Linked DNA regions of Homo sapiens: region 1 is linked to region 2. The links come from fine-mapping of genetic effects on gene expression. Tissue or cell type: whole blood. Region 2 holds a variant in brackets; the other region holds the start of a gene. All regions are shown on one strand. Distances are between the middles of the regions.

What was found. PIP is the estimated chance that this variant, and not a neighbour inherited with it, causes the effect.
Region 1: it holds the start of AMDHD2, and the variant in region 2 is fine-mapped to the expression of AMDHD2 in whole blood (TOPMed, PIP above 0.99).

Annotation. Positions count from the first base shown.
Region 1 is chr16:2,518,290-2,522,289 of GRCh38, reverse strand. It overlaps AMDHD2 (amidohydrolase domain containing 2), which reads right to left and starts at 1,919. Exons shown (of 11, transcript NM_001330449.2): 1 at 1,749-1,919; 2 at 1,385-1,521; 3 at 1,167-1,306. The coding sequence starts at 1,831. ATP6V0C (ATPase H+ transporting V0 subunit c) reads right to left here. Exons shown (of 3, transcript NM_001694.4): 2 at 2,889-3,072; 3 at 2,072-2,749. The coding sequence ends at 2,545. RefSeq lists silencers at 1,704-1,773, 1,944-2,053.
Region 2 is chr16:2,595,245-2,602,923 of GRCh38, reverse strand. PDPK1 (3-phosphoinositide dependent protein kinase 1) reads right to left here. Exons shown (of 14, transcript NM_002613.5): 12 at 7,074-7,131; 13 at 5,649-5,801; 14 at 1-5,273. The coding sequence ends at 5,157. Among named protein-coding and RNA genes, the nearest start is that of FLJ42627, 40 kb to the left of the region's middle. The variant A/G (reference allele first, on the strand shown) is at 3,771.

The DNA.
Region 1 (4,000 bases), 79 kb after region 2:
GGCAACACAGTGAGACTTTCTCTACAAAAAATGTTAAAATTGGCTGGGCATGGTGGCACACACCTGTAGTCCTACCTACTCAAGAGGCTGAAGCAAGAGGATCGCTTGAGCAGAGAAGAATGAGGCTGCAATGGGCTATGACCACACCACTCTACTCCAACCTGGGCCACAGAGAGAAACCCTGTCTCTTAAAAATAACAAAAACTGGCCGGGCGCGGTGGCTCACGCCTGTAATCCCAGCACTTTGGGAGGCCAAGGCGGGCGGATCACGAGGTCAGGAGATCGAGACCATCCTGGCTAACACGGTGAAACCCCGTCTCTACGAAAAATACAAAAAATTAGCCGGGCGAGGTGGCGGGCACCTGTAGTCCCAGCTACTTGGGAGGCTGAAGCAGGAGAATGGCGTGAACCCTGGGGGGCGGAGCCTGCAGTGAGCCAAGATTGTGCCACTGCACTCCAGCCTGGGCGACAGAGCGAGACTCCGTCTCAAAAAAAAAAAAAAAAAAAACTAAACAAAAAAAAAAAGCATGTTGGATACAACCTACTCTCAAATAGTTCAGTAAAAAACAGTAGCACAGGTACAGCCAAGAGGAGCCTGAATAGTAGTAACATACAGCAAAAAGTTAACCCTGTAGAACCTAAGTAAAAATTAAAATAAAAAAAGACCAAGGACAACCAAATTTCTTCCGGGCAGGAAAGAAAATGGAAGCGTGGGGCAAGCAGTACAGGAGCAGGGGGAGTCTCTTCTGGAAGGCGTGTTCCACTGAGTCACACATCAGACAGGTTAGGGAGGAAGAGCCTGACCAGGGACTATCGCTGTGCCAATCACAGAATCCCCTGCGGCCTTGGTTAAGGGGATGGTTTCTGAAGCCTGGAGGCAGCCAGAGTGCAGTGCAGGGGGTGGGGACGGCCTATGGCTCAGACGGTGCTGAGCCAGCAGTGTGGAGACAGCTGCGGAGGACAGAGGGTCTAGGGAGGCCAGGCAGAGCGACAACTGATAAAGAAGCACAGGGGCGGGACCCAGGCCCAGATCCGGTCATCAAAGGAGGCCAGACTCAGGACCATGGAATACGTGCTGGGGGTGGGGGGTGGGGCGTGAGTTTGAAAATGAGGGCGCTGGTTGCTCCGGGAGCCCCCTCCACCTCAGCCAGGGAGCCTCACCTCACCTTGTGATAAACCTCCGGTGGGGAAGTGACCAGGGTGGGGCAGAAGGAGGTGACGCCGTGCGACAGGATCCTCCGGGCCACGAGGGCAACCCCCGAACCCACGTCCTCCGTGGCTTGAGAGAAGTCAACACCAAATCCACCTGCAGCCACAGAAAAGGAAGTGTCGCATGGAGCTCAGAGCTCCTCCCCTGGGTTCCCCTGCCGGCCCCGGGCCGCACCGTTGATCTGCACGTCGATGAATCCGGGAGCCAAGATGCGGCCCCCGCAGTCCCGCCGCTCGTCGGCCACGCGCCGCTCCTCAAAGAACAGCTTCTCTGGGTCCAAGATGCGGCCTCCGCGCACCCACAGATCCTCCCTGGGGACGCAGTGGGTGGGCGCTCGCATCGCGGGCCTGACCTCGGCCCCGCACCCTGCACCCCGCCCGGTCCCCGGCCCCGCACCCTGCACCCCGCCCGGTCCCCGGCCCCGCACCCTGCACCCCGCCCTGTCCCCGGCCCCGCACCCTGCACCCCGCCCGGTCCCCGGCCCCGCACCCTGCACCCCGCCCGGTCCCCAGCCCCGCAGTCCCCGGCCCGCGCCCACCTGAGCAGTTTCCCTCCGCGCAGGATCCGGCAGTTAGTGAACTGGAGCACGCGGGCCCCCGCCGCGCCCTGCTCGCCGCGCATCGTGAGCCGTGTCGGGAGCGAGCGGCTCCGGAGCCCCGCGGCGGCCAAATCCCGCGCCCAGTGACGAACCCCAGCCGAGAGCTGAGACCGCGCCCACGTGACCTTCAGCTGACTGAAGCGGCGCGCCACGTGACCGCCGCGCCCACGTGATCGAGCCAGCCCACGTGACCGGCAGCGCCCGGCGCCCGCCCGCCCGCCCGCCCGCCCCCGCCCCCAACAAGCTGAGCAGACACAGGCCCGTCACATCCAAGAACTTTATTGGACACAGCTCCGCGCAGGGCCACGGGCCCGGCGGTGAGGGCGGCTCCATCCAGGAAGTCTCAGCAACAGGAACCCACAAGGCGACACTCTAGCTAAGGTTATAGATAGCTGGGAGACAAGGGCCGCTCCGCAGACGCAGGAACAGGCCAGATCTTTATAAATAAACATCCAGTAAAGAGAAATGACAATTCTAAATCATCCGCATACACAGAGCACTCTAGGGGGTGGGGCGCCGGGGGCCTGGAGGGGCGATGAGTGGGCCCAGATGTCCACGGCACGGGGCGGGCGGGGGCAAGGCCGGGGAAACAGACGATGGGCACTAGGACACTGCGCATGTACAAGACCAACTACTGGGGGCGGCGGCCCCGTGCGTATGTGTCAGGCTGTTCGTTCTGGAATGAGGAGGGGTGGTCTTTACATAATATTCTGTGGCTGGTGGGCTCGGAGAGGGTCTACTTTGTGGAGAGGATGAGGGCGACGATGAGACCGTAGAGGCCGAGCACCTCGGCGAAGATGAGAATCAGGATCATGCCCACGAATAGTCGGGGCTGCTGGGCGGTGCCCCGCACGCCAGCGTCCCCCACGATGCCGATGGCAAAGCCGGCTGCCAGGCCGCTCAGGCCCACGCTCAGGCCGGCGCCCAGCTGGAGGAAGCTCCTGGGGGCGAGAAGAGAGGACTGACATCAGCAGCCTGCCAACCAGGGGGAGACAAGGGTCCGGGTCACCACCCACAGGTGAACCGCCCCCCTCCCTGCAGTCCTCCAGCCCTGGGCAGGGGCCTGACCCCAGTGCTCACTTGTAGAGGCTGATGTCGTCATTCAGGGAGTTGGCGATGAGGACTGCCACCACCAGGCCGTAGATGGCGATGATGCCAGCCATGACCACTGGGATGATGGACTTCATGATCTGCTCCGGCCGCATGACAGACATGGCCGCAATGCCGGTACCGCTCTTGGCTGTGCCATAGGCAGCGCCCAGGGCTGTGGGAGGAAGGCGGGGTGAGCCCACAGCAGTACGCAGGCCAGTTGAGACTAGGACCCCGAGGTGTAGCTTTGGCACAGCTCCAAGGGCCACCCCAAGTTATCACATGCAGAGGGGGAGCCGAAGAAGGCATCCAGCCCAGGGCAAGAGGACCCAGGAGGAACAGCCACGGGCAAGCAAAAGGAGGCCAGGACAGCCACTCCTCCTTCCTCTACGTGAGGCCCCCACCCTCAGAGTCCAGCTCTTCCTCCAGCAGCAGCTCTTGGGGCGGCGTGACCCATCTGGGGCTCCTGGCTCTGCAGTGAACCCACCTGTCACCCCAGGGAGCCTCAGTGCAGCCTCAGCAGCCCCCATGTGGGGTCAGGGTCAGTCGACCCTTGGGGCTACTGCCCAGGACAACATGCTGGAAAAGCCACCAAAGGTCTTGGGGATGGCAAAGCCACTGCTACAGGGTGTGACCGGAGGGTCAGAAGCAGCTGACCTGGCCACTCTTGTCACCCAGGCCAGAGCTCCCTTGACTCACTGCCCAGGCCAAGCTCCCCAACGCTCCCAGCCCCAAATATTAACCTAGGAGGGCCAAACATTCTGCCAGAAAGGGCAGCTCTCAGCACCCTCAGCCACACAGCAGGCCTGAACCCTTGACAGATTGGAGAATCTTCTCTACCAGACAGGAGACAGGGTGAGCCAAGAAGAGGATGGGGGCAGAGAAGACGACGGGGATCATCAACAGTCCAACTACGAGGCCTCAGCTGACCTCCCAGAGAGGTCTCCCCTGCACACGGGGTGGCTCCAAGCACACAGGAGCCTGGCCAGAGGGCCCAAGCCTCCCACCGCAACAGTGCTGGTGGGCTGGGCTCCAGGGTGGCCTGTCTCCTCCAGAGCTGTCCCTCCTTCCTCTCCCAAGAGAATGTTGCCTTTCTTTTCAGT
Region 2 (7,679 bases):
CAAATAATTCATATATTAGAATTTAAATAACACAGACTGAACTAGAGGCCAACAATAGCCAGCAAATAACCTTATATAAGAATAAAAATACAAAAGTGTATATCCTAGTATCATTGCATTTGTTTTCATAAGTTCTTTTAATTTTTGCTTTGTCTGTACATCACAGTTACAGCTACAGACCAGGTAGAGAATATTACGCATGTTCTGCTTGCCACCCACCTGAAAGACGTACTAGTCATTTATCCTATTTTATGTTGTGAAGGAACAGCTACAGCAGCTCTAAATACTGTAACAATTTAATTTTGCCAACATCCAACTTACTTACAGTCGTAATAGAGGCTTTTACCAGCACAATGACCCCTATTCGTAGTCATTCTGCCAGGTGGTTAGGCTATGTGGGTTACACAGCTTAAAAAAGGTCTGCCTTTTGTAAAAAGTTCTCTGTACATAGTTTGGTGTTTCTTCATATGGAAGAAATGAGTTACGGGGAAAATTCAGGTACACACGTAGGCTCGTTCAGTTGCTCACCACAGCCATCTCAACAGATGAAAGTGCTCTTTGTTGGAAACAGCTTCCTCCTCACACCAGTTCTCCACAGGCAGCCTCATCTACAACCCTGCAATTTTGGGCCAGAAGTGGTGGCCCCTCAGAGGCTCTGAAGTGCCTCCAGCCCCGATTCAGGCACTTGCCACGTGTGCTGCGTAAGAAGGGACCCCCACCCAGTGAGTCAACATAGGCTCATGTCAAGTTTGAAAATAACTGGGGAAAAGTGTATGACAACATCTTCCAGAACAAAGTACCTTCACCGTATTCTCACAGCAGCTGCGATCTCTGAAGTCTCAGCAGTGACCACCCCGGGTCTGTCAACCAGCCAGGCAAGGGGGGGCCCTCAGGCTTCAGAGGGCAAGAAACCAAATTCCGTGCAATTTGGCCATAATCTCTGGTAGAGTGAAGCAGCACTGAACACGGTGCCTAGAAAAACCTCCTGCACGTTCCCCTGCACAATCAATGGACCCCAACTACAGTGGAGAAATGAAGAATCCAACCAAATTTGGGTGGTCTGGACTTGCTGCCAGCCAGGCAATCTGCAACACTGTGGGCAGGGAGTTGGGGGGGGCGGCCTGAAATCTACACCAGCTGGGACAACCACGCCCTACAATGAAAAAGCCAGCCTGGCTGCTGGGCTCTTGTGAACCACTAAGACCTGAAGGTGGGGCCCCACGGGTGGAAGGGGGAGACAAATGCACTCTTGTAAAACCCAATCAGCTACGTGGTTTTTTTCAAAGAGGCTTTGCTCTGCTACTGATTCCAAATGTCCTAATATACCTTCTGAGTCTATAAACTTAATTACAAATCACTCACTAAGCATGTGGCAAGGTCAGTTCAACACTTGTTATCTCTGCTGACTGTGCAGATGCAAATTCAGTACCATTGTGGACACGAAGTACAAGATTCTGCCAAGCGCTTGAAAGCCACGGCAGCAGGGAGGGCAGAGAGCTGACATGCAGGCAGAGCCAGGTTCTTGCAACCAAAACAAGGAAATTGGCTCTTGGAAAAAATCGGCCACAGATGGATTGCAGTAGTGACATCCTCTTAGCATTTAAATAAAGAGCGGTCTTATTCAGACATTCTTTGGAACACATGGCTTATCAGAAACCGATTTGTTCAGAATCTGTAAGACACAACTAAGGTGGTTCTGCTACTGGAAGTGAGCGTCTACACATCAGGTCGAGAGAGAGACAGAAATATCTTCAAAATGAACAAACTCTTTCACCTCAAAATACCACTTCCAGGCATCTAAGGGGGAAAAAAGTAAGAAATCAGAAGATTTTAAAGATATTCATCACAGCATTATTTAAATAGTGGAAAAATCAGAAACCGTCTTAAGTATTTTACAGTAGGGAAATGGTCAGATAAATTATAGTAAATGGACAATGACTAAATAGTACAATTGTTAAAAACATGTTTCTGAGAAACTCATGACATGGGAAAATGCTTAAAATATCAAGGGAGAAGACGATGCAAACGGTGTGTGTCGGATGTTCCTATTTTAGTTTAAAAAGTGAACAAATGGCAGGGCAGGATATACGGCAAAATGCTCACAGTGGTCTTCTCTGGCCGGTGAGCCTACAGCTGATCTTGTCAGAGACAAACGTTAGTTTTACTGAGTCACCCAGAGCCCTGTGCTGGTGCCTGAGGGTTTGTTCCATGGGACAGTCTCCACAATTCCTCTGGGGAAGGGCCACAAATCCCACAGTGTGTCCCAAGAGGGCTGGAGTAGGCGGAGTCCCCAGCAGCTGTGGCATGACCAGCCATCTCTCTCAAAACAATTGTTAACAAGCCTTCTGCAAGTTAAGGTTCCACATGGTAGCCGTGGTACAGAGGCATTTCTCTAGGGTGGAGAGGCTTGTGCTCTACACCAGGACTGCCCACCGCCCTGGCTGGGGCCACACAAAGAGGGGAGAAAGGAATCCCTCAGAAGCCAGCCCCCAACTGTGTCCCAGAGAAAGGCGGGGCACCTGGGACACCTAGGCCGGCAGCGACCACAGCCTCCCTCCGCTTTGTGCCGAGAAGCCGCACAGTGTGGTCCCGACATTCCACCTGTCCTTGCCCATGTGTGGGGAGGCACATGGCCCCAAGTCTATTAAACAGCAGGTGAAATCTTCCTCATCTTGGATAAACCCACAACTGTAATTCCACGTAAGTGTGTCTATGTGCACACACAGTACCCCACGTTCTACCGTAGAATGTAAGGCGCCTGCGTGCCAGGTGATGGCTCTAAGGATGTGGTAGAGAAAACCGGAGTAGACATGAGCAAGCACAGGGTAAGGAAAGAAAACACACGGGCCTTTCAAAAGGGAAGAGCAAGGGGCTGGGTGAGGAGAAAGGTGACCCACAGAAGGGCTTGGCTGTCAGCTCAGGCAATGGCATCATTTTGGCTGGCGGCTGCCAGCTCTGGCTCTGAGCCCCTAGTTCTGTGGCTTTGGAGGTTAAGATGGAGCTTGTCAGTGACGCCCAGGAGGTGGTGGTTCTATCCAGAGGAAGAACGCACGGAAGAGTCTCCCCAAGCAGCCCAGCCGAGTGCTCCAATTAAAGCCACGTCCCTGCTCCACTTGTTTCCCTATAACCAGACGCCCTGAGAGATCTGAGAGAGCCACTCTCCTACATGGAGACACAGGACGTTCTGAGATGGGTAAAATAGCTGATGAGGAGGAGGAAGCCTGAACAGAAATTCCTGAAAGGGCTAAGAGAGACTCCCCAACACAGCCAAGCCTTTCCAAAAGCCAGGAGGAGGAGAGAGGACTCCGACTCCGGCCACAGGCCCAGGGCAACGTGCTGGGCCCCGGAGCGTCCTGCTCCCTGGGGCCCCAGGGTAGGTGCGGCCCAGCTCACCCCAGCTCACGGTCACAGGCTCACATGCAGCTCTCACACAGCAGCAGCCAAGGCCCAGGCAGGAACCACAGGCAGGGCCTGGGGAACATCTCTGCCCCCTCCCAGGCCCCGTCTGTACTCGCCTAGCTAAAAAGAGCCACTCTCGTCATTAGCAGTGTAAAAACGACACCTTCCCTCTCAGTTTGGATCTGGCCTGGCACACAGGGTCACTGCTGAGTCACCTGTGACTTGGGGGTAGGGACCAGGGAGGGTGGACACAGTTGAGTCAGAGGCAGGTCTGTGGGCAGCAATGTCTGCCTCTCCCCCAAAGGGAGTGAGGGCTGCCCTCCAGGGACAACCTGGGCAGGGAGAGAAGGGCCCAGACCTGCCAGGCCACC[A/G]GGAGCACTCTCTACCTGGGGAGTAGCTAGGCAAAGGACAAATGCATCTGGCCTGTCTGTGCTGCAGAGCGGGGCAAGGCCACCAAAGCATCAAAGGGAAATGGCCCCAAAACCGGCTCTCTCTAGAGGAAAGCCGACCAGCAAGCTGGGGTTGAAGTGTGCTGTTCTCGCCTCCTGTGCAACAGCAACTGGCAAAGCCCACTCTATGGGCCCAGATGAGCCGGCAGCATGAGAAGGCTGTGAGATTTCTGATGCACAGATGTAGAAGCTCTGAGGGGCTCTGAGAAACTTGAACCAAAACACAAAAGGGGCGTGTGTGACGGTGGTGTCTGCACTCCCTGGCGTGGTCTGCAGGAGACAGAAGCACCCTGGGTCTGCTGATGCCAGGGTTCTCTCAGACCCTACTTCAGCAACTGGAGAGGCGTGGACATTTAAACCTTTTAGGAGGCCCTCAGGCCTCTCTGCTCCACACGGAAGTCAGCAGCCCTCTCTGCTCTGGCTGGCTTCTCCAAGGCACCTCCTGGCCCCACCTAGGGCTCGGGGCAGGACTCTCTCGTGCAGTGAGCCAGCGGGGTACTAACTGGGCTCACTTCTGACAGTACCGCTCCCAGCATGCGCTCGGCTTCCAGCCCCAGAGACCAACACTGCTAAGTAGGATAAGGGATCCGGAGCCCTCGATGGCACCCTCCACTCGGCAGCCTGCTCCCGCACCACTCCAACCCCTCCCGCTCCTCACCACGCAAACCTGCCTGCCAACACAGCAGGGGCCACAGAAAGCTGCCACCAGAGCCACCACAGGGATATGTAATGGGCCCAGCCAGGCCTAAGGGCCCATCACAGGGAGACGCAAGAAAGGGAGCAGGTGACAGAAGCACGGCGGCTCCCTCCACAAAGCTGCGGCCCCCGCAGGGCTCCCTCCCTGGTGAAGAGTTCCAGGACCACAGCGGGAGGGGCATAAAGAGCCAAACACACCCGGTCCCCTCGGCCACAGCAGGACCAGCACACAGTTGGGGCAGGGCGGGCGCATGGTTCGGACTGATGCTAGGAAAAACTGGTGACACCAGGTCTGTCCACTAGTCTGGGCGGGACTGGGTTGACGTGCATGGAGCTGGGTCCCCACGGCAACGAGGGCACACGGAGGCCTCCACGGAGCACAGAGAGCAAGCAAAGCGACCCTGAATTCCTTTGTGTTTGTTACTGGTTTTGTTCTTTGTGTGGTTGGGTGTTTTTTTTCTTCTTTTCTTTTAAATAAAAATGCTGCAAGGTTTCCGCCTCTGCGTTCCCCTTGTGATGGCTGGCAGGTGGTCTGGAAGCGTCCCGGATGGCGGCCAAGCCGCGCTGGGGCAGGTGTCCTGGCAGCGAAGGGCAGCCCGGCCGCAGGCCACGTCACTGCACAGCGGCGTCCGGGTGGCTCTGGTATCGCTGCCTCCAAACCTCCTGGATCTTCCTGCACCACTTGTGTGCGTTCCCGCTGGGGTCCATCAGATAATACGTCCTGTTAGGCTGCGAAGACAGAAGCCGTTTAGTGTTCTCCAGGGAGTCCCACCAAAACCCCCACCCCAACCTGGTGAGCTGCCTGCGACCAGCCATTCCGAGTCCTGAAAGCACGTGGGTGTGACGGTTATTCACACAAGCAGTAAGCAACTACACAGGCTGATGACCACCACCCCCAGTCACCACCAAACTGAAAAACAAGCACAGGGTGTCCCCTGCCCCCTCAGGACTGAGCCACTAGTGTGGGCGTCTGGGATGTCGGAAAGGGCGAGGCAGCTGCCCCGATCCCCGCTGCTCCCTCTGGCCAAGGCCTGTGGCTGCTTCCCACGTGGTGCAAAGCCCTCCCATTACCCTGCACACAGAAATCCCTGGGAACAGACTCACCGTGTGGACAAAGAAAGTTTTAAAATTCTTGGCCTCTGGTCGAAGTTCTTGTGACCAAGGAATTTCACCTTTCAGAACTTTGTTGACAGGATCCACATAATATAAATGTGGTCCTTCTGTGAGCAACAGCTGTCGTCGTCTTGCAAATAAACCCTGACGCCAAAACACAAAACAACAGGCCTCAGAGGCCAGTGCTGACGGCATCTCCTGGAGCCTAGAGGGCTGGGCGGCCCCTCGGAGCTGCTCAGGACACAGGGCCACCACCACCACCTGTGCACTCACCCAGGGGCAGGGGACTTCCTGCCCCACCAGGCCCAGTTTCTAAGGTCACAGGGGATGCAGCACAGGCCTCTGCTGCTGAGATGGCGCAGACAGCCCATCCAGATCGGGCCCATGGCTCCCCTGGCCCCTCTGCTCTGCCTGGGACAGAAGCCTGCTCTCGGTAGCCGGCCTCCACCCACCTGCACCGAGATCCTTGCCTGCGGAGGACATACGGCCAGGAACAGAGGCCAGGAGCCTGCGCTTGGAAGTGGCCCCGTGAGCACCTGGAGCTGAATATTTTCTAACCAAGGGTTAAAGCTAACAGTTACTGGTTTGTGTTCTGTCTAATCATACTGAAATTCCTGATCTGACGTTCTACTGTAGAAGTAATATGATTTATATTTGAAAAAGGTACAAGATGACCAAATAAATACCTGAGCACATCCACACACTTGCCTGGCTCCATACAGACCACTTGCTAAGTGCTGGATCCATTTAATCCATAAAATAAAGAACAACCCGGCCGGGCGCCGTGGCTCACGCCTGTAATCCCAGCACTTTGGAAGGCTGAGACGGGTGGATCACGAGGTCAGGAGATCAAGACCATCCTGGCTAACACGGTGAAACCCCGTCTCTACTAAAAATACAAAAAAAGATTAGCCGGGCATGGTGGCGGGCGCCTGTGGTCCCAGCTACTCAGGAGGCTGAGGCAGGAGAATGGTGTGAACCTGGGAGGCGGAGCTTGCAGTGAGCCGAGATCGCGCCACTGCACTCTAGCCTGGGGGACAGAGCAAGACTCCATCTCAAAGAAAAAAATAAAGAACAACCCTTAAATGGTTTTGAAACACTTCTAAAGAAATATTAGACCACTGGCTAAGATATCACATGTGGCCTCTTCAACTTGACGGAAACCTCAAAACAGGCAGCCCCAGGCTCCCAGGAGTGTGGGCGGTTGCTTCTGCACTGCCCTAACCGCCTACGCGTGTGGCTCCACATGGCTTCTCTCAAGGGACTTAAGCCTTCCCGAGCTATGAAATCTAGAGATGATGTCTGATGAAAATCAAGAGATGGAAGGATTCCACGCCACCAAGCTGCCCTCCCCTAAGCTGGAGTCGGGGAAGATGCAGGTGTCCGTGCGGAGCAGCGGGACCACTGACCACTCACCTTCCGCTTATCCACTGGGCCCATCTTTAGTATTAAATTATTTTCTACAAACTGGTGCCTGTGGAAAGAAACAAGAAAGAGATGCTCCCATGACAATCACAAACAGAAATTCTCCACGCTCCTCCTGCCACACGAACTCCCCATAGCCTCGGCCTGCCCCTCACAGAGCCAGCCTCACTTTGGGATGAGCAGAGAACGTTCGCCACATGTAACCCAGCACATACAGCACTGCCACGCAGAGAGCCTTAATCCGTATTTGCAACGGAGCCTGCAGATACCAGACACAGTGCCTGTTGCCCCCTCACTGCCAGTGACATCCACACAGCGGGGAAAAGGTGGGGGAGGACCGTGCTGTAGAAACGGGCAGGTGACACAGGTCATTGCTGCCTTAACAAAGCTGTGGTGAGGCGCAGAACTGCCTCCCGAAAGGTGGCTGCCCGCGGAGTCAACAACTGGATGAGATGATCGCCCTCAAGTTACCCCACAAGCTGGGGCCCCTGATTCAGTGCTCAGGATCCACAGAGCCGTTTATAATCACAAAGCTCTGACAGACCCAAGTTGGACGTAAGAACATCTCCTCTGGTTTTTCCATCATAGTAAAACACT